Homo sapiens: one gene and its partners. The protein of the gene in region 2 purifies or fractionates together with the protein of the main gene of each other region. This does not show direct contact. Each region holds a gene or a part of one and is shown on either strand. Other genes may lie near its edges.

The links. The genes of interacting proteins can lie anywhere in the genome.
Region 1: the proteins of LPXN (region 2) and SPECC1L purify together in Homo sapiens (co-immunoprecipitation; 3 studies listed by BioGRID and IntAct, with this or other methods). This does not show direct contact.
Region 3: the proteins of LPXN (region 2) and PLEKHH1 purify together in Homo sapiens (co-immunoprecipitation; 3 studies listed by BioGRID and IntAct, with this or other methods). This does not show direct contact.
Region 4: the proteins of LPXN (region 2) and ATXN2 purify together in Homo sapiens (co-immunoprecipitation; 3 studies listed by BioGRID and IntAct, with this or other methods). This does not show direct contact.

The regions. Positions count from the first base shown.
Region 1 is NC_000022.11:24,315,000-24,319,330, reverse strand, and holds part of SPECC1L (cytospin-A), read right to left. Parts: intron 1-4,331. UniProt on the Homo sapiens protein: Involved in cytokinesis and spindle organization. May play a role in actin cytoskeleton organization and microtubule stabilization and hence required for proper cell adhesion and migration.
Region 2 is NC_000011.10:58,568,619-58,573,781, forward strand, and holds part of LPXN (leupaxin), read right to left. Parts: intron 2,096-5,163; coding exon 1,938-2,095; intron 1-1,937. UniProt on the Homo sapiens protein: Transcriptional coactivator for androgen receptor (AR) and serum response factor (SRF). Contributes to the regulation of cell adhesion, spreading and cell migration and acts as a negative regulator in integrin-mediated cell adhesion events.
Region 3 is NC_000014.9:67,531,115-67,536,089, reverse strand, and holds the start of PLEKHH1 (pleckstrin homology domain-containing family H member 1), read right to left. Parts: upstream 2,801-4,975; 5' UTR 2,692-2,800; intron 2,455-2,691; exon of another isoform or gene 2,381-2,454; intron 2,329-2,380; exon of another isoform or gene 2,240-2,328; intron 1-2,239.
Region 4 is NC_000012.12:111,487,816-111,492,146, forward strand, and holds part of ATXN2 (ataxin-2), read right to left. Parts: intron 966-4,331; coding exon 661-965; intron 1-660. UniProt on the Homo sapiens protein: Involved in EGFR trafficking, acting as negative regulator of endocytic EGFR internalization at the plasma membrane.

The DNA.
Region 1 (4,331 bases), on a different chromosome or scaffold from region 2:
GCTCTCATTCTCCTCCTTCCTGCCACTATGTGGAGAAGAATGTGCCTGCTACCCCTTCCACCATAATTCTAAGTTTCCAGAGGCCTCCCCATCTCTGTGGACCTGTGAGTAAATTAAACCTCTTTTCTTTATGAATTACTCAGTCTGGGGCAGTTCTTTACAGCAGCATGAGAATGGACTAATACAGATTCTAAGTGGAATACATAAGGAAGAAAGCAGAGCAGCAGAGGAGGAATGTGGGCAGGTAGATCAATGAGGTAAAAGAGGTCCCACATTCAGGGGCGGCAGTAAGAACAGAGAAGAGGCAAGAAATCTGTGACAGATATCAAAGGCAAGAGTAACCAGACTGGGATAAACAACTGTATACGGAGGCCAAAAATGGAAAAAGATGGCATAACTTTTTTTTTTTTTTTGAGGCTCTGTCACCCAGGCTAGAGTGCAGTTGTGCCATCACAGCTCACGGCAACTCTACCTCCCAGGCTCAGGTGATCCTCCCACCTCAGCCACCCGAGTAGCTAGGACTACAAGCACACGCCACCATACCCAGCTAATTTTTGTATTTTTTGTAGAGACGGGGTTTCACCACATTGGGCATGTTGCCCAAGCTGGTCTTGAACTCCTAGGCTCAAGTGATCTGCCCACCTTGGCCTCCTAAAGTGCTGGGATTACAGGCGTGCACCATCGCACCTGGCTGGGGTAACTTTTTTCCCCAACATTAATTCCTTTCCCTAGTTCTGCAAGTGGTACCACATCCTTATCTAAATCAAAAATCCTTATAAAAAAGAAAATCTGGCTCTCCCTCTCCCCTCTCCCCTCTTTCCACGGTCTCCCTCTGATGCCGAGCCGAAGCTGGACTGTACTGCTGCCATCTCGGCTCACTGCAACCTCCCTGCCTGATTCTCCTGCCTCAGCCTGCCGAGTGCCTGCGATTGCAGGCGCGCGCCGCCACGCCTGACTGGTTTTCGTATTTTTTGGGTGGAGACGGGGTTTCGCTGTGTTGGCCGGGCTGGTCTCCAGCTCCTAACCGCGAGTGATCTGCCAGCCTCGGCCTCCCGAGGTGCCGGGATTGCAGACGGAGTCTCCTTCACTCATTGCTCAATGGTGCCCAGGCTGGAGTGCAGTGGCGTGATCTCGACTTGCTACAACATCCACCTCCCAGCAGCCTGCCTTGGCCTCCCAAAGTGCCGAGATTGCAGCCTCTGCCCGGCCCCACCCCGTCTGGGAAGTGAGGAGCGTCTCTGCCTGGCCGCCCATCGTCTGGGATGTGAGGAGCCCCTCTGCCTGGCTGCCCAGTCTGGAAAGTGAGGAGCGTCTCTGCCCAGCCGCCATCCCATCTAGGAAGTGAGGAGCGCCTCTTCCCGGCCGCCATCCCATCTAGGAAGTGAGGAGCGTCTCTGCCCGGCCGCCCATCATCTGAGATGTGGGGAGCGCCTCTGCCCTGTCGCCCCGTCCGGGATGTGAGGAGCGTCTCTGCCCGGCCGCACCATCTGAGAAGTGAGGAGACCCTCTGCCTGGCAACCGCCCTGTCTGAGAAGTGAGGAGCCCCTCCGCCCAGCAGCCGCCCCGTCTGAGAAGTGAGGAGCCCCTCCGCCCGGCAGCCACCCCGTCTGGGAAGTGAGGAGCATCTCTGCCGGGCAGCCACCCCGTCCAGGAGGGAGATGGGGGGGTCAGCCCCCCGCCTGGCCAGCCGCCCCGTCCGGGAGGGAGGTGGGGGGATCAGCCCCCCGCCCGGCCAGCCGCCCCGTCCGGGAGGCGAGGGGCGCCTCTGCCCGGCCGCCCCTACTGGGAAGTGAGGAGCCCCTCTGCCTGGCCAGCCGCCCCGTCCGGGAGGGAGGTGGGGGGGTCAGCCCCCTGCCCAGCCAGCCGCCCCGTCCGGGAGGTTGGGGGGTCAGCCCCCCGCCCGGCCAGCGCCCCATCTGGGAGGTGAGGGGCGCCTCTGCCCGGCCGCCCCTACTGGGAAGTGAGGAGCCCCTCTGCCCGGCCAGCCGCCCCGTCCGGGAGGGAGGTGGGGGGGGTCAGCCCCCCGCCTGGCCAGCCGCCCCGTCCGGGAGGGAGGTGGGGGGGGTCAGCCCCCCGCCCGGCCAGCCGCCCCATCCGGGAGGTGAGGGGCGCCTCTGCCCGGCCGCCCCTACTGGGAAGTGAGGAGCCCCTCTGCCCAGCCAGCCGCCCCGTCCGGGAGGGAGGTAGGGGGGTCAGCCCCCCGCCCAGCCAGCCGCCCCGTCCAGGAGGGAGGTGGGGGGGTCAGCCCCACCGCCCGGCCAGCCACCCCCTCCGGGAGGGAGGTGGGGGGGTCAGCCCCCCGCCCGGCCAGCCGCCCCGTCCAGGAGGTGAGGGGCGCCTCTGCCCGGCCGCCCCTACTGGGAAGTGAGGAGCTCCTCGGCCCGGCCAGCCGCCCCGTCTGGGAGGGAGGTTGGGGGGGTCAGCCCCCCGCCCGGCCAGCCGCCCCATCCAGGAGGTGAGGGGCGCCTCTGCCCGGCCGCCCCTACTGGGAAGTGAGGAGCCCCTCTGCCCGGCCACCACCCCGTCTGGGAGGTGTACCCAACAGCTCATTGAGAATGGGCCATGATGACAATGGTGGTTTTGTGGAATAGAAAGGGGGGAAAGGTGGGGAAAAGATTGAGAAATCGGATGGTTGCCGTGTCTGTGTAGAAAGAGGTAGACATGGGAGACTTTTAATTTTGTTCTGTACTAAGAAAAATTCTTCTGCCTTGGGATCCTGTTGATCTGTGACCTTACCCCCAACCCTGTGCTCTCTGAAACATGTGCTGTGTCCACTCAGGGTTAAATGGATTAAGGGCGGTGCAAGATGTGCTTTGTTAAACAGACGCTTGAAGGCAGCATGCTCGTTCAGAGTCATCACCACTCCCTAATCTCAAGTACCCAGGGACACAAACACTGCGGAAGGCCGCAGGGTCCTCTGCCTAGGAAAACCAGAGACCTTTGTTCACTTGTTTATCTGCTGACCTTCCCTCCACTATTGTCCTGTGACCCTGCCAAATCCCCCTCTGCGAGAAACACCCAAGAATGATCAATAAATAAATAAATAAATAAATAAAAAGAAAATCTGTTCATGTTTGAAAGATAAAAGAAGAAAAATTCTTCTCTGGATTACTGTAATGAGTAGACAGAATAATCTGAGGTAAAGACAAGTGAATTGATACATGGAAATCAAACAGTCTTAGGAAAGTCACTGGAGGAGGTAAAGGTAGAGCAGATGAACTGAAGAATAAGGATGTTGTTATAGGCTGAACTGTGCCCGCACAAAACACACAAAATTAATATGTTGAAGCCCTAACCCCAAAACCTCAAATGTGACTGCACCTGGAGACAGGATAATGAAGTTAAAGAGGTAATTAACGTAAGATGAAGTCATTAGGGTGGGCCCTAATCCAACATGACTGGCGTTCTTGTAAGAGGAGGAGATGAGGACACACACACAGAGGGAAGACACAGAGAAGGCAGCCATCTGCAAGACAAAAAAGAGATCTCAGGAGAAAGTAAATCTGCTAACACCCTCATTTCAGACTTCTGGCTTCCAGATTTGAGAAAATAAATTTCTGTGGCTTAAGCCATCCAGTCTGTGGTATTTTGTTATGACATCCCCAGCAAAATAAAATAAACGTACAAAGCCATACTGGGGCAGCTAATCCAGAGAGGTGATAACTGAATCCTGAGGTCAGGTAGCATCAGTCAGTAAGAAACTAAGTATACAAACACATGGAATCTCTCCCAGTACAATTCTAAAGGCAGGAAACAGGAAGACATGCAAATGGCAAGAGTATTTAATTTCCTTCCTACCACATAAGCTACAATGTTAAATGTGGTGATGACCCCAGGCTTGGGAGTAAAAGACCTTGCCTCACCACCAGCCTTGTGGCCTTGTCAAAACAGATCCCCAATAAATATTTACTGAGCAAATGAATGCATGGCCTTGGCCAAGACACTTAAGCTTTCTCATCTCTAAAATGAGGATACTAGTTCTCACAGGACTACAGGTGAGGATAAAATGAAATCATGCCTGTAAATCAGAAAGCAAGGACTTCAATATTCCTTCCTGTTAATCGCACCTATTATCATTAACAGGGAGGCCCAATCTGAAATGGAAGGAAGAATCTGCATAAAGCCAAAGCAAAAATGAAGACAGTAGGTAATCCTGGGCTAGGAGAGTCTAATACACACAAGAGGGGCTAAGAGCCTAAATTACGATGACAGAAAAGGATCTGATGTAATTTTTACAATTTGCCTTCATAAGCTTTATTACAAACACTTGATCTTATGTTTACTAGAAGTTTTAAAGTTCTTTTTCTATAAACGTAAGAAGTAAAATATGA
Region 2 (5,163 bases):
GCACTGTTCACTGAATATGTGTTTCATACGCTGCTAGATGAGACCATGGAAGAAGCTGGAAGGAGGTCTGTTAAGCCATAGTGGCTTACTTAATGCAAATACTGATAAGAAAACTTTAAATAAAATTGAAGATCTGGGGTAAAAAGTAAAGTTAATAGGATGTGAGAAAAACAAGCATAAACCCAGGACTCTTTCAGGTAAACCAGGATATATGGTCACCCCAGAAAGATCAACATGAAACTATGGCTTTTACTCCAAATGAGATGGGAGTCATTTTGGGGTTTTGAGTAGAAGAATGACAGGGTCTGACTTTAGTTTTTAAAGGTGACCCTGGCTGCTTGAGAACAGACTGCAGTGGGGCAAAGGGCAGGAGACCACTTAGGAGCCTACAGCTATAATCTAACACTGAGAACAAAGACAATAGTTCCCTAGTAGAGAGATAAATTCGTATCGTTAAAATTGTGTATGTGTCTGGAGAAAAGAACAGTTAGGGCGTAAACTACCCCTGAGCTCAAATTTCAGGTCTGTGCTTCTGGCTATTTCATACAGGGAACAATGATGAATCAAAATATCATAGTACAAAATTACCAGCTATGAAGAGCATCTACTTAATTCATCTTACACTAATTCCATTCTCATCAAGCAACCTTTTAATTATAATGTACGTCCATATAGACTTATCCATAGGAAGAGAATGCATATATGAGTAAATATAGCTGTTTTACTTGATAGCTTTAACTGTAAATTTGATTTCTGAGTTTTGTTTTTTTTTTGTTTGTTTGTTTTTTGAGACAAGCTCTCATTCTGTCGCCCAGGCTGGGATGGAGTGGCGCAATCATAGCTCACTGCAGCCTCGACCACCTGGGCTTAAGCAATCCTCCTGCTTCAGCCACCTGAGTGGCGGGGACCATAGGCACGCACCACCACACCCTGCTCATTTTTTAATTTTTCGTAGAGATGGGGGTCTCACCATATGGCCCAGGCTGGTCTCAAACTCCTGGCTTCAAGTGATCCCCCCGCCTCAGCCTTCCAAAGTGCTGAAATTACAGGCCTGAGCCACTGCACCTGCCCTAGGTTTTTAAAATATATATATAATCACTTGTCAATTTGGTTAGTTTGAGTTGGTTCCCTAGAGCTTCATCATCTCTATATAAACTAATAATTGAATCTCCTAATCTATTCAGCAGAAAATAAGACCTGGGAAGTAGTGACCCTAAAAAGTCACCCTGAGAAGACTTGTCTATGCTGCCACCTGGCCTTCCTCAGGTGATCTCTGGCCTGAGTACCATTCCAGTCAAACTGCAACAGGCATCTCTGATGCCCCCACAGTAACATCAGAATATCCCCAGTGAATGCAATACTCTGCCTGTGACCATGTGCTCATTAGAAAAAATGTAGTTCTCGGCTGGGCGTGATGGCTCATGCCTGTAATCCCAGCAATTTGGGAGGCCAAGGCGGGTGAATCACCTCAGGTCAGGAGTTTGAGACCAGCCTGGCCAACATGACAAAACCCGTCTCTACTAAAAATACAAAAATTAGCTGGGCATGGTGGTGCGTGCCTGTAATCCTAGCTATTTGGGAGGCTGAAGCAGGAGAATCGCTTGAACCTGGGAGGTGAAGGTTGCAGTGAGCCGAGATTGTGCCACTGCACTCCAGCCTTGGAGACAGAGTGTGACTCTGTCTCAAAAAATAAAAAAAAAATAAAAAAAATAAAAAAAATAAAAAAAATTTAGTTCTCAAAAACTCATTCCTCTGTGATGATTTTCTCAATTCTCTTCCTCTTTCCAAAAACATCTTTAGATTAACATTGAGGCATTATTTTTTCTCTTTCTTGGATATATTATTCTCCTTTCATATTATTTTATGTGGGATTCTGTTAATTTTCAGAAATGCACTCAAACATCCATGTTTAAGGACTATAATAAATGAAAATTTACCGGCAAGGGACTTGTGTTATCCTGAATAGAAAGGATCTCCGAAGTCTCATCAAGGTTAGTCTCCTTTCTGGAATGCTGATCCAGGGGAAGAGGAGCTGGGTTGGAATATTCATCACTGTCCTGAAGGGTGGAGCGTTCCAGTTCCTCCAATAAGGCATCTACACCATAAGAAGCAAGAGAATCATGACAGAGAATATTTAAATCCCTACAGTCATTTTCTCCTTAAATATCTTCACTGTGCCCACATTCATCTCCTTTTCTTCAATTATGGCTATTTTCAAATACTTTCCCTTATTCCTTATTTCACTTCAAGAATGTGGTGAATCCTACCAAGAAATGTTTAACACCTCCATAAATTGTGGTTTGTTTCTTATTTTCTATGGTTGCATTCAATTTCATAGTCTCATGCTATAATTTGATTTTTTATACCACAGGTATTAATTTTCATCATTCATTTAGGGTAGATTCCCCACAAATATCCTTAATTAGAAAAAAATAAAACTGGGCTGGGTATAGTGGCTTATGCCCATAATCTTAGCACTTTGGAAGGCTGAGGCGGGAGGATCCCTTGAGCCTAGGAGTTCCAGACCAGGGCAACATAGCAAAATCCAGTCTGTATGAAAAATACAAAAAAGTCAGCCCAGCATGGTGATGCACACCTGTGGTCCCAGCTACTTGGGAGGCTGAGGTGGGAGGATCACCTGAGCCTAGGTGAGCCTGCGATGAGTCGAGATCACGCCACCACACTCCAGCAGCCTGGGCCAAAGGAGTGATACCCTGTCTCAAAAAATAAATAAATAAATAAATAAATAAATAAATAAATAAATCCTAAATGCTTTTTTCTATCAGAAAAATAGAAGCAATTATATTACCATTTTTCAAAACATACGAGGGAAATAACACTTATTCTTAATCCTAATGATATTTTTTCTTAAATCTTAACAATTATCCTGAGCACGTAACAAAATTTTCAAAGCAAGGTATAAGTATCCTGTCTTTTAGGGTGTGGAGAGAAAAAATGGTTGGGGATAAAACTGAGATATTGCAAAATCAAGTAAGATGTTGCAATTTAAATAGTTGGGATTTGTTACTCTTTCAGTTTTTTTTCTTTTTTTTTTTTTGGAAAAGTATTATATACTAGTATCTATCTGTTACAATGAAATAAATAATAATTAATAAAAATTAACACATGCCAGGCACTGTGCTCAGGAGTTTACACATTTCATTTAATCATCCTAACACTTTGAGGCAGATGATATTATTGTCCTTATTTTGTAGATCACAAGAAAGAGACAAAAATAATTTGCTTAAGCGCATGAATGCAGAACCAGGACTTGAATCTGGGCTATCTGATCCCTAGCCCCTGCATTAACTAAAAGTTAGAAGTTCCAGTCTCCTGTCTTATATATATTCTCTGGGTTACCTTGAGCATGTCACATCCTTCTCTGATGCAGTTTCCTCATCTACATAACAAGGCAATTTGATTAGAACAGTATTTTTCAAATTATGGCTCAATAATGCATTAGTGGATCTCTAGCGGACTTCTTACCACAGATTTTAGCTTTCAAACTTTAAACACATAATTACATTATTTCTAAGGACCTGCCTACATCTAAAGTTCTCAGATAAGGAAAATAAACTTCACAGGTCATTAAAAAAAAAACAGATTTTTCATTTATTTTAGATTTTGGAGGAATGAATATTTCTTAATGGCGTTAGAAGAGATCTAATCCTTTTTTTTTTAACAAATGAAATATACAGATCTTTCATAATCATCCATTTATCAAAAATGTTGACTTTTATGTACCATTTTAGAGATAAGCAAACTGAACTAAACTCTCGGGCAAATGAATAACTGTAATGGGAAAAAAGAGATGAGTGGGACCCTATGGCATTAAAAAGTTGAGAGACTTATAATAAATTTCAGTGTATGAACTTTATTTGGATCATTAAATCTACTGTAAAAATGAAACAATCAAGACTATTGAACACTGACTGGATATTAAATAATATCAAGTAAGTACTGTTTATTTTAGGTGTGATAATGATATTTAATAATATTAATTAATTCTGTTAAGTTTTTAGGTGTGATAATGGTATTTTACAATATTAAGGAATTAATATTAAGGCTGTTGTTATGGCAATGGCATTACAGTTATATGTATAAATATATATTTATTTTAGAGGTCAGTGTTAAAATAGTTACAGATAAAATGACATCTGAAATTGTTTTAACATAATTACAGGGGTGAAAGGAATGGGTGGGCATATATATGAAGTAAGACTGATGAAGAACTGATTGTTTCAACTGGTTGATGGGTATATCAGAATTCATTAAACTATTTTCTCTACTTTTGCATACTTAAATTTCTTTATAATAGAAGTTTTTTAAAAAGAAGGACAAATAGGCCGGGCATGGTGGCTCATGCCTGTAAATCCCAGCACTTTGAGAGGCCGAGGCGGGCGGATCGCCTGAGGTTGGGAGTTCGAGACCAGCCTGACCAACATGGAGAAAACCCGTCTCTACTAAAAACACAAAATTAGCCAGGCATGGCGGCACATGTCTGCAATCCCAGCTACTCAGGAAGGCTGAGGCAGGCGAAACGCTTGAACCTGGGAAGCAGAGGTTGCGGTGAGCCGAGACCGTGCCATTGCACTCCAGCCTGGGCAACAAGAGCAAAACTCCGTCTCAAAAAAAAAAAAAAAGAAAAGAAAAGAAAGAAAAAGAAAAGAAAACTAAGGTAGAAAAAGAAAGAAAACTTTTTGCCTCAGATTTTTATTAGCCAGACCCCACACCAAATTTGAGAATTTTGAATTTTTATTCTACATCTTTCAATTATGCTAGAGCCCCTTTCTTTTCTATTTTCTAAGCTTTGCTCTAACTAGAAGCCAAAGATCCTCCTGAGCTCAAAATAAAAAGCCATTTACAATAAAGATTATAAGAGAGAAGAAACCATACCACAAAGAGTAGGAAGTTGCCCTCAGAAGCACCAGCTAACCAAAGTTATCAAAACCCTTCTTTCTGGGTCATGAGTTATAGGCTTTTCTCTTCCTGTTTCATATGAGTGTGCATATCACCAACACTGTGAGGTTATTATGCCTTTTGCCAGATTTTGTAATTTGAAGATGACTAATTTCAGTATGACAAATATGGGATTCCTGGAGAGTGGGGGCGGGGGAAGTGGGGACTAGACTGAAGACTCCATAATTCTTCTCTGTAGTCTTT
Region 3 (4,975 bases), on a different chromosome or scaffold from region 2:
AACAGCAAAGAGAAACAGCTTAGTACCTAAGATCCCATGCTCTGGCACTGACAGGCCTGGGTTTGAATACGAGCTCAGGCACTAAATAATCCTGTGGCCTTAAGCCATTTGCTTAACTTCTTTGAGACTCAGTTCCATTCTGAAATTGAGGGCAGTAATATTTGAAAATCAGGACAATAATATTTGGTTGAACCATATGAAACCGTCATTTAACCATTTTCCAACCTTCAAAATGGCCATTTCATATATCACATCATGCAGGGCTTTTTGAGAATTAAAGGAGATATTACAAAAGCCTGGTGCACACTAAGTACTCAATAAATGACTGTTATTGTTGTAATCAGCAAACAAAGGCAAACCAATAGCATCTAGAACATAAAAGGAGATGTGGCCCAAAGATGTGCTCACGAGGCTGGGCACGGTGGCTCAAGCCTGTAATCCCAGCACTTTGGGAGGTGGAGGCAGGCGGCTTACCTGAGGTCAGGAGTTCAACCAGACTGGCCAACATGGTGAAACCCTGTCTCTACTAAAAATACAAAAATTAGCCAGGTGTGGTGGCGCATGCCTGTTAATCCCAGCCACTTGGGAGGCTAAGGCAGGTGAACTGCTTGAACCCTGGAGGCGGAGGTTGTAGTGAGCTGAGATTGCACCACTGCACTCCAGCCTGGGCAACAGAGCGAGACTCTGGCTCAAAAAAAAAAAAAAAAAAAAAAAAAAAAGATGTGCTCACTACCAGATCTAACTCTGGAGATCTGGAGAGGAGGTCATATGATTTTTAAAGTTATTTTAGAACATTGAACAAAAGGGTATATAGTGCAAAGTAAGGCTTCTTCCCATGCCTGTACTTCAGCCATAGTTCTCCCCAGCGGCAACCACTGTTACAGGTTTCTGTGTGTTCTCTCAGAGATATTCAGAGCATCTACAGGCATTCATATGTATGTGGCATTCACACACCCACCCAAAAATCGTGGCCCACCATACACACTGTACTCAACAATATAACTTAGAGATATTCCTACATCAAAGTATATATCTGCCACATTTTCTCTGCACGCTTTATAACAGCTTTAATGTATCCTATCGTGTGGCTTTTACATGATCTTATTGAAGGGTTCCTTATTGATGGACATCTAGATTGTTTCCAACCTTTTGCTAAACAATGCTGCAATGAATATTCAATGATGTACACCATTTCATATACATCAGAGTATATCTGAAGGATAAAGTCCCAGAAAATGGAATTTAGGGGTAAATGATGTACACTTTAAATTGCCAGACATTTCTTTGGATTTTTTTTTTTCTATCAGGAATGGGAGGAACATGCTCTCCCCTACAGCTGGTGACTTCTGAAGAGGGCAGAAGAGGCTCCACATTTTTTCAGCTTAGTTGTTAGTTTCAATGAGTTTGGGGCCACAGGCTGCACCCCACAATTGCCCAACTCTGAGCAGGCCCCCTCAGCAGTCTATGGGAAGGTGGTAGAAGTGGACTGAACCATACGTTAGGAATTTAGGAGGCTTGGGTTTCAGTTATGGCTCTTCCACTTTTTAGCTATGTGACCATGGGCATATCACAACAATTTTTTTTTTAACAGACAGGATCATCAGCCTCCCAAGTTAGCTGGGACTACAGGCCCACACCACCACACCCAGCTAATTTTTAAATTTTTATTTATTTGTAGACACAGGGTCTCCCTATGTTGCCCAGGCTGGTCTTGAACTCCTGGCATCAAGCTCTCCTCCTGCCTTGGCTTCCCAAAGTGCTGGGATTACAGGCATAAGCCACTGCAACTGGCCTAAATCACAACTTTTCAGAGTCCCAGCTTCCTCCTTTGGAAAAATGGGGCCAATAATATGCAGAAACACTAATACCGATGTTCTATAAAGCGTTCAGTGATGGTACTAGCCCTATACACAGTGTCTGTCACATAGAAGACAGTCCAAACAGTTTGATGAAGGAACTGATAATTCTCCCACTGAATTTTTTAAATGGTCTTTCAAGTGTTTTACCTGAACCAAGGCTCTGTCTTGGAAGAGTTTTATGAGGTGGATTCATAGTAAAAGCTATGGAGGAGATATCCTGGCAAGCAGAAATCCCACAAGGAGAGGAGTTTCCTTCCAGATGAGGCTCTTCACCGCCTCTGCCACCCCCACTAAGGCCCCTGGTTCCTGGTGACCGAGTCCTCGCTAAGACTCCTAGGACACAATGCTCTGTGTCATTCGGCGCCCAACCTGTTTTCTTTTCTGCTTGAATGACCTGCTCCTAGGAGTCGAGCCTGAGCCATAGGGTCCCAAAGACAACACTCAGAAATCACAGAAGAAATAACCTGAGGTGAGATGGGGAGGGGTGCGGGAAGGGGTGAAAGGGAGCGAGCACCGATAGCAAGGTGGCAGCCTGCACGTCCGCTCCGAGGGCCCTTCCCAGGAGCGGCTGGATCTGACCGATCCCCAAGTCCAGGTACTCCCGGGGGAGGCTCCTCCTGGCCTCGCGGCGCGAGTCCCCTGGGGCGCCCGGCTTCCCAAGCCAGACCCGCGCTCCAGCGCTCCCCGCCGCTGGGAGCTCGCTTCCAGGTAGGGAGGCACCTGCTCCGGATCGTCCTCTGGGCCCGAGGGGCCGTCCCCCGCGCGCAGCCTGACGCCCTCCGCCGCGGCGCAGCCCCAGCCCACCACAGCGGCGGGAGCGCGGGTCGCTCACCTCCAGCGAGCTCGCGGCCGTCCCCGCCGCGCACTGGGCACACGGGCGCCCTCGGGCCGCCGCCGCAGCCGACCTTGCGTCGCTCTCGCCGGAGTCCCGGGCTGCCGCCGGTTCTCCCCTCCCCGGCAGCAGGGGTCGTGGGCTGCGGGGCGGGGCGAGGCTGGAGCGGGAGGGGTGCCCGCGGGCTCGCTGCACAAAGCCCGGCCGAGCCTTGCTGCGCCCCATTCAACGCTCCGCCGGGCGCCCTCCTCCCCTCGGCTCCCCGCCCGCTCCTTAAAGGCAGAGCGCTGGGCTCAGCTCTCCAGGCAGCTCGCGGAGAGGCACAGGAAATGACCTCAGCAGGCTCCAGCCTCCCACTTCTCCGCACCGCTGGGCTCGTCCCTGGGGCGGCAGGGAGGGCGGCGGGGTGTCCCGGGCGCCGGCCCGGAGCTCTCCGAGGAGGCCGCACCAGCTGCCGCAAGGGGTGGCCAGAGCGCCCCGGGGATCTGCTTGACCCCAAATAGCGGGGGACCCTCGCGGGCTGCGGGACAAGACCAGACCGTCTCCGCCAAAGGTTCCAGCATTCTCCTGGCCACCTGTGGGAACTGTAACGTCTGGATATTTGGAACAGAAGTCCATATTTCAGTCTGGCAGACCAAATGTTCTGAGTTGCAATTTGCAGGAGAAAAAGAAAAAATAAGTTACGACAGCCCAGAGAGTAACTTACTTGCTTATTTTCTGGTCTCGCTATGTTGCCCAGGCTGGACTCGAACTCCGGAGCTCAAGTGATCTTCCCGCCTGGGCCTCCAGGCCGGCTTATGTATATGTTATTTTAAAGGAGGGCCCAGGAGGACCCTGGCTGCCAGGCAGTTTGCAGGGCAGTCATCAGCGTGCCCATGTGCTCCTCGTTCTCAGACATTTGCAGATCTCAGATCGCCCAAAGCAATCTCATACCCAGAGGGGTTGGAAAACTCAACATTTGGCTAGGTGAGCCTGGAGTAAAGAAGATGCAAATAGAGACCATTGCAGGGAGGGATCCACACTTCAAAACAGAGCCTTCTTCCTCAACCCTGCAGGCTCTCTGTCAGTGAAGGACTGAACAGAAGCAAAATACCATCAGCGCCTGTTTCTCCAAATGGTCCTTGGAAGACTCATCCCAGGCACCATGAAGAACACCCCCACCCTGGGTTTGAATCTGAATCTCTAACTAAAGTACCCCAGGCCATTCTCACGTAGAAGTTTTGAGAGCCCAGACACTAAGGAAAGCTGGTAGTGCAGGAGGCCAAACGTGAGAATTTAACTGGGCCAATGGGACTTCAATGGCTGAACTTGCAAACAGCTTTATAGCTCGTGGGGATTGGGATAGATTAGCCCCATTTTGTGGGACAATGCTCAGGCTATCCACTTCAACATTCCAGAAGTTGCATAAGGAAGCCCAAAAACACGTTCTCTGGATTTTGCTAAGAAGACATTAATTCATTCATTCACTTTTTTTTTTTTTTTTTTTTTGGACATAGGTTCTTCTTGTTCTGTTCTCCAGGCTGGATTGCAGTGGCACAATCATAGCTCACTGTAACTTGAACTCCTGGGCTCAAGCAATCCTCCCATCTCAGCCTCATGAACAGCTGGGACTATAGGCACATGCTACTATACCCAGCAAAAAAAAAAAAAAAAATTTTTTTTTTTTTTTAGTAGAGGTGGGGTCTCAAACTCCTGGACTCAAGAAATCCTCCTGCCTCGGCCTCCCAAAGTGCTGGGATTACAGGGATGAGCCACCGCACCTCGGCCCAGAACTCATTTAATATAACTTTGTTATATAGTGAAAAGAGACGCACCATGGAGAGTGGAATGGGAGGAGCATGCTCTCCCCTATAGCTGGTTACTTCTGTAGAGGGCAGAAGAGACTCCACATTTTTTTCAGCTCAGTTGTTACTTTCAATGAGTTTGGGGCCATAGAGTGCATCTCACCATTGCCCAACTCTGAGCAGGACCCCTTGGCAGTCTGTGGGAGGGTGGTAGAGGTGGACTGAACCCTACATTAGGAATTTAGGAGGCTTGAGTTTCAGTTATGTCTCTTCCACTTTTTAGCTATGTGACTTGGGCAAGTTACAACTTTTGTTGTTGTTGTTGTTTTCTTTTAAGAGATAAGATCTTGCTCTGTTGCCTAAGCTAGAATGCAGTGGCAATCATAGCTCATTGCAGCCCAGAACTCCTAGGCTCAAGCAGTCCTTCTGCCTCAGCCTCCCAGGTAGCTGGGACTATAATACCCACCATCACCCCTAGAGCCCCTTTCTTTGGATATTAG
Region 4 (4,331 bases), on a different chromosome or scaffold from region 2:
GGAAAAAGTCATGGCTGTAAAAAAAAATTGCCTCAAATCAAGAATAAGCAGTCCCCAATTTATCAATAAGCTGCATTCCAAAACTTCAGCTTTAACTGGATTGTTTGGTACCCAAACACCTAAGTCAATGGTAGTTAAGTTCTGAGGTTAGCCCCTAAAAGTCCATTTAATTAATATACTGAATGTGCAGAATTAAGTCTATCTTAACAAATCTAAACATTAACTAAAACACAGTTTCTGATGAAAAATATTTTGAATTCCAAGTAGAAGCACCGCATGCTTCTCTCCTTGACAGTGGCAGTTTTTCAACCTAGCAGCACAGTGAGGGTGACTAATGAGTGGAATCCAGTAAAGATAGGTCCCCTGAATTGATAATTTTTCAACTCCTGTTCATTTACAGAAAAACTTTTCTTAATTTATGCCTTGTTTTTCTAGCCCTGGGGTACAAAAAAGGGGAAGAACAGAAGAGTAGCACAGGGTGCAATAACCTCATTTACTTAAGATGTCATTTGTTTGGACTAGCTGTTTGTAAACTAAGGGCAATGTATAAAGTAGTCTAAAAGTCCAGATGGATTCTTCACAGTTGGAAGGACCTAAATGCCTTTAAAAAAAAAAAAGTTAATTGAGTAACAGGATGGTCTAAGTTCCAGGTTTACTCACTCAGCTGCGTCTTTCTTCTCTTCCTTATCGTCTTTCTCTTGTTTACATGCTGGGCTGGAAGTCTGAACCCCTTGGGAAGTGACCTCAGGTCCCCTCTTGTGCTCCGTGTTACTAAGTATTGAAGGGGAAATGCTGGGGCTATTCGGCTTGCTGCTGCCACTGGTACAGTTGCTGCTGCTATTTTCAATGAAAGAATCCTTAGCACTTGGTTCAATTTTGTCTTTGATCAAATCTCTTGATTTTTCTCCCTCTCTATTTTTGTTTAGTAGTTGATCCATAGATTCAGAAGTAGAACTTGGCTGTAACTAAATAAAGGAAACAATTATACTTAAATATCTTAAATAACTTTAGTAATACATTTTTGCCATGAGCACAAGCTACGTAATATTAACTATACGCATGAAATGTTCTGAATAAGGCTTTTTTCATACTTTAAGAGTAATGCTTTTACTATAAACTAACAATAACAGAGTACCTATATAGCACAACCACAGTCACCAAAGCACTCAAATGTCCTAGCCTCTAAAGTTCAATATTTACTGAGTGCTTACCACATGTCAGAAATTGTGCCTGCTGGGTGAGAAAAATATGAAATAGTTTCTATCCTCTTATACTTGTCATTTAAATAAGATCAGACACTTCACAATAAAATGAGTAAATGCTAAGAGAGTCTATAGAAAAAGCAACCTATAAAAAAGAAAGGTTTCTCAGTAAAGTGTCAGCTAGTCTAAGGTGTGAAAGAAGTTTAGGAAAGGTGTTGGGATGGAGAATAGTCTAAGTAAAAGGAAGAGTATGTTTAAAAATCCAAAGAAAAGGGAGAAGCTGGCTCTATCACATAAAACAATAGCACCAATGGGGGCCGGGCACGGTGGCTCACGCCTGTAATCCCAGCACTTTGGGAGGCCAAGGCAGGCGGATCACGAGGTCAGGAGATCGAGACCATCTTGGCTCACACGCTGAAACCCCATCTCTACTAAAAATACAAAAATTAGCCAGGCATGGTGGCAGGCGCCTATAGTCCCTGCTACTCGGGAGGCTGAGGTAGGAGAATGGTGTGAACCTGGGAAGTGGAGCTGCAGTGAGCCAAGATCACGCCACTGCACTCCAGCCTGGGTGACAGAGCGAGACTCCGTCTCAAAAAAAAAAAAAAAGATAGCACCAATGAGCTGGGCACAGTAGCTCATCACTGTAATTCCAGCCCTTTGGGAGGCTGAGACAAGCAGACTGCTTAAGCTCAGGAGTTCAAGACCAGCCTGGGCAACATAGTGATACCCTGTCTCATTTAAAAAATAATAATAAAATAAAATAAAATAACAAAAATAAAGAAGTAAAGAAAAGCACCAATGGCTGGACCAAGGGTGAGACACACATGTACAAGTGAGTCAGAAAATGATAGACTCGTCAAAAGGAATATGACAATAAAGGAACTTAAAAGCTATGTTCAGGGCTGCGTGCAGTGGCTAACACCTATCATCCTAGCACTTTGGGAAGCCAAGGCAGGTGGATCACTTGAGGTCAGGAGTTTAAGACCAGACTGGCCAACATGGTGAAACTCCGTCTCTACTAAAGATAAAAAAAAAAAATTAGCCAGGCGTGATGGCACACGTGTAAATCCCAGCTACTTGGGAGGCTGACATATGAGAATTGCTTGAACCCAGGAGGCGGAGGTTGCAGTGAGCCAAGATCACACCACTGCACTCCAGCCTGGGTGACAGAGCAAGACTCCATCTAAAAATTAAAAAAAAAAAAAAAAAAGTTTTAAAAAGCTACGTTTAGGACTTTGGCTTTTAATTCTCAGGGCAAATGGGCAGTCTATACGGAATTTTAAGTAGGGTAGAGTACTGGGCAGATTTATAGTTCAGAAAGGTGAACACAGCAGCTTTGTGTGAAATGAACTGGAGGGAGGCTAATTAGGATGTGGAGGGACCGTCATGGAGGCTGGACTAAGCGCTGGGCCTAGTCAGCTTGGAAGGTCATTAAGTAGGTGAATTCAGAATGAGACCTGACTGTACATATTGGTCAGTTAGACATTCTAAACCCCTAAGTAAAAAAAGGAGATGGCAGGGGAGAAGAGACAGAGCATGGTGGCCAAACAGAACCTTCCAGTGATCATCCCCAACAAGGAGCACCAAATTGAACAACTATCCACACAAGAAAGCACCTTCATAAGAACCAAAAATTAGGTAAGCGATCACAGTACCCAGTTTTGACATCCTATCAAGGAAAAAGACACCAAAAAAGATAAGGAAGATAGTCTTGAACTGCCCCTCCAACACCCCTGACATTCCCCCACAATGCAGTGTGGGGTGGAGAAAGAATCTGTGTGCTCGGGGGAGAGAGAGAGAAATGACTGTGGGATTTTGCATTGAAACTCAGTGCTGCCCTGTCACAGTGGAAAGCAGCATAGGACAGAATTCAGCCAGCACCCACAGAGGGAGTATTTAGACTAGCCCTAGTCAGAGGGGAATTGTCCATCCCAGTGATTAGAATCTGAATTTCGGGCTGGGCACTATGGTCTGTAATCCCAGCACTTTGGGAGGCCGAGGCGGACGGATAACCTGAGGTCGGGAGTTCAAGACCAGCCTGACCAACATGGAGAAACCTCATCTCTACTAAAAAACAAAAAAATTAGCCAGAGGTGGTAGCGCATGCCGGTAATCCCAGCTACTCAGGAGGCTGAGGTAGGAGAATTATTTGAACCCGGGAGGCGGAGGTTGTGGTGAGCTGAGATTGCGTCACTATACTCCAGCCTGGGCAATAAGAGCGAAACTCTGCCAAAAAAAACCAAAAGAATCTTAATTTTGGTAAGCCCCACCACCGTGGGTAAAGTCCTCTGGGGTCCTAAATAAACTTGAAAGGCAGTCTAGACCAGAAGGACTGCAATTCCTGGACAAGTCATGGTACTGTGCTGGGCTCATAGTCAGTGGACTTGGGGTACATGTGACCCACTGAGACACCAGCTAGGGTGGCCAAGGGAGTGCTTGTGCCAGCCTTCCCCCAACTCCAGGTACCACAGCTCACAGCTCTGGGAGGAGAGGGAAGAGTAGGGAGGACTTTGTCTTGCAATGTGGATACTAGTTCAGCCACAGTAAAATAAAGCACCAAGCATAGTTCTGAAGCCTCAATTCTAGGCCATAGCTCCCAGATGACATTTCTAGACATATTCTGGACCAGAAGGGAACCCATTGCCTTGAAGGGAAATACCTAGTCCTAGTAGGATTCACCACCAGCTGACTAAAGAGCCCTTGTGCCTTGAATAAAAAACAAGGTGCCATGTCGTATTGTGCCAGCTTCAGATATGACCCCGCACATTCACAGCTGTGGTGTCCATGGGGAGACCCACCTGCTTGAGGTGAGAGAAGAGTAAAAAGGACTTTATCTTGCAAGTGGGTGCCAGCTCAGCCCCAGTACAATAAAGCAGATTCCTAAAGCTCCCGATCCCAGGCCCTGGCTCCTGGGCAGCATTTCTAGACACACCCTGGGCCAGAAGGGAACCTGCTGCACTGAAAGTAAAGACCCAGTTCTTGCAGGATTCTTCACCTACTGACTAAAGCACCCTTGGGCCTTAAATTAACATCAGTGGTGGCCAGAAAATAGCTGCCACAGGCCTTGGGTGAGACCAAGTACAGTTCCAGTGACGGTGGCCATGGCAGTGCTTGTGTCACCCTTCC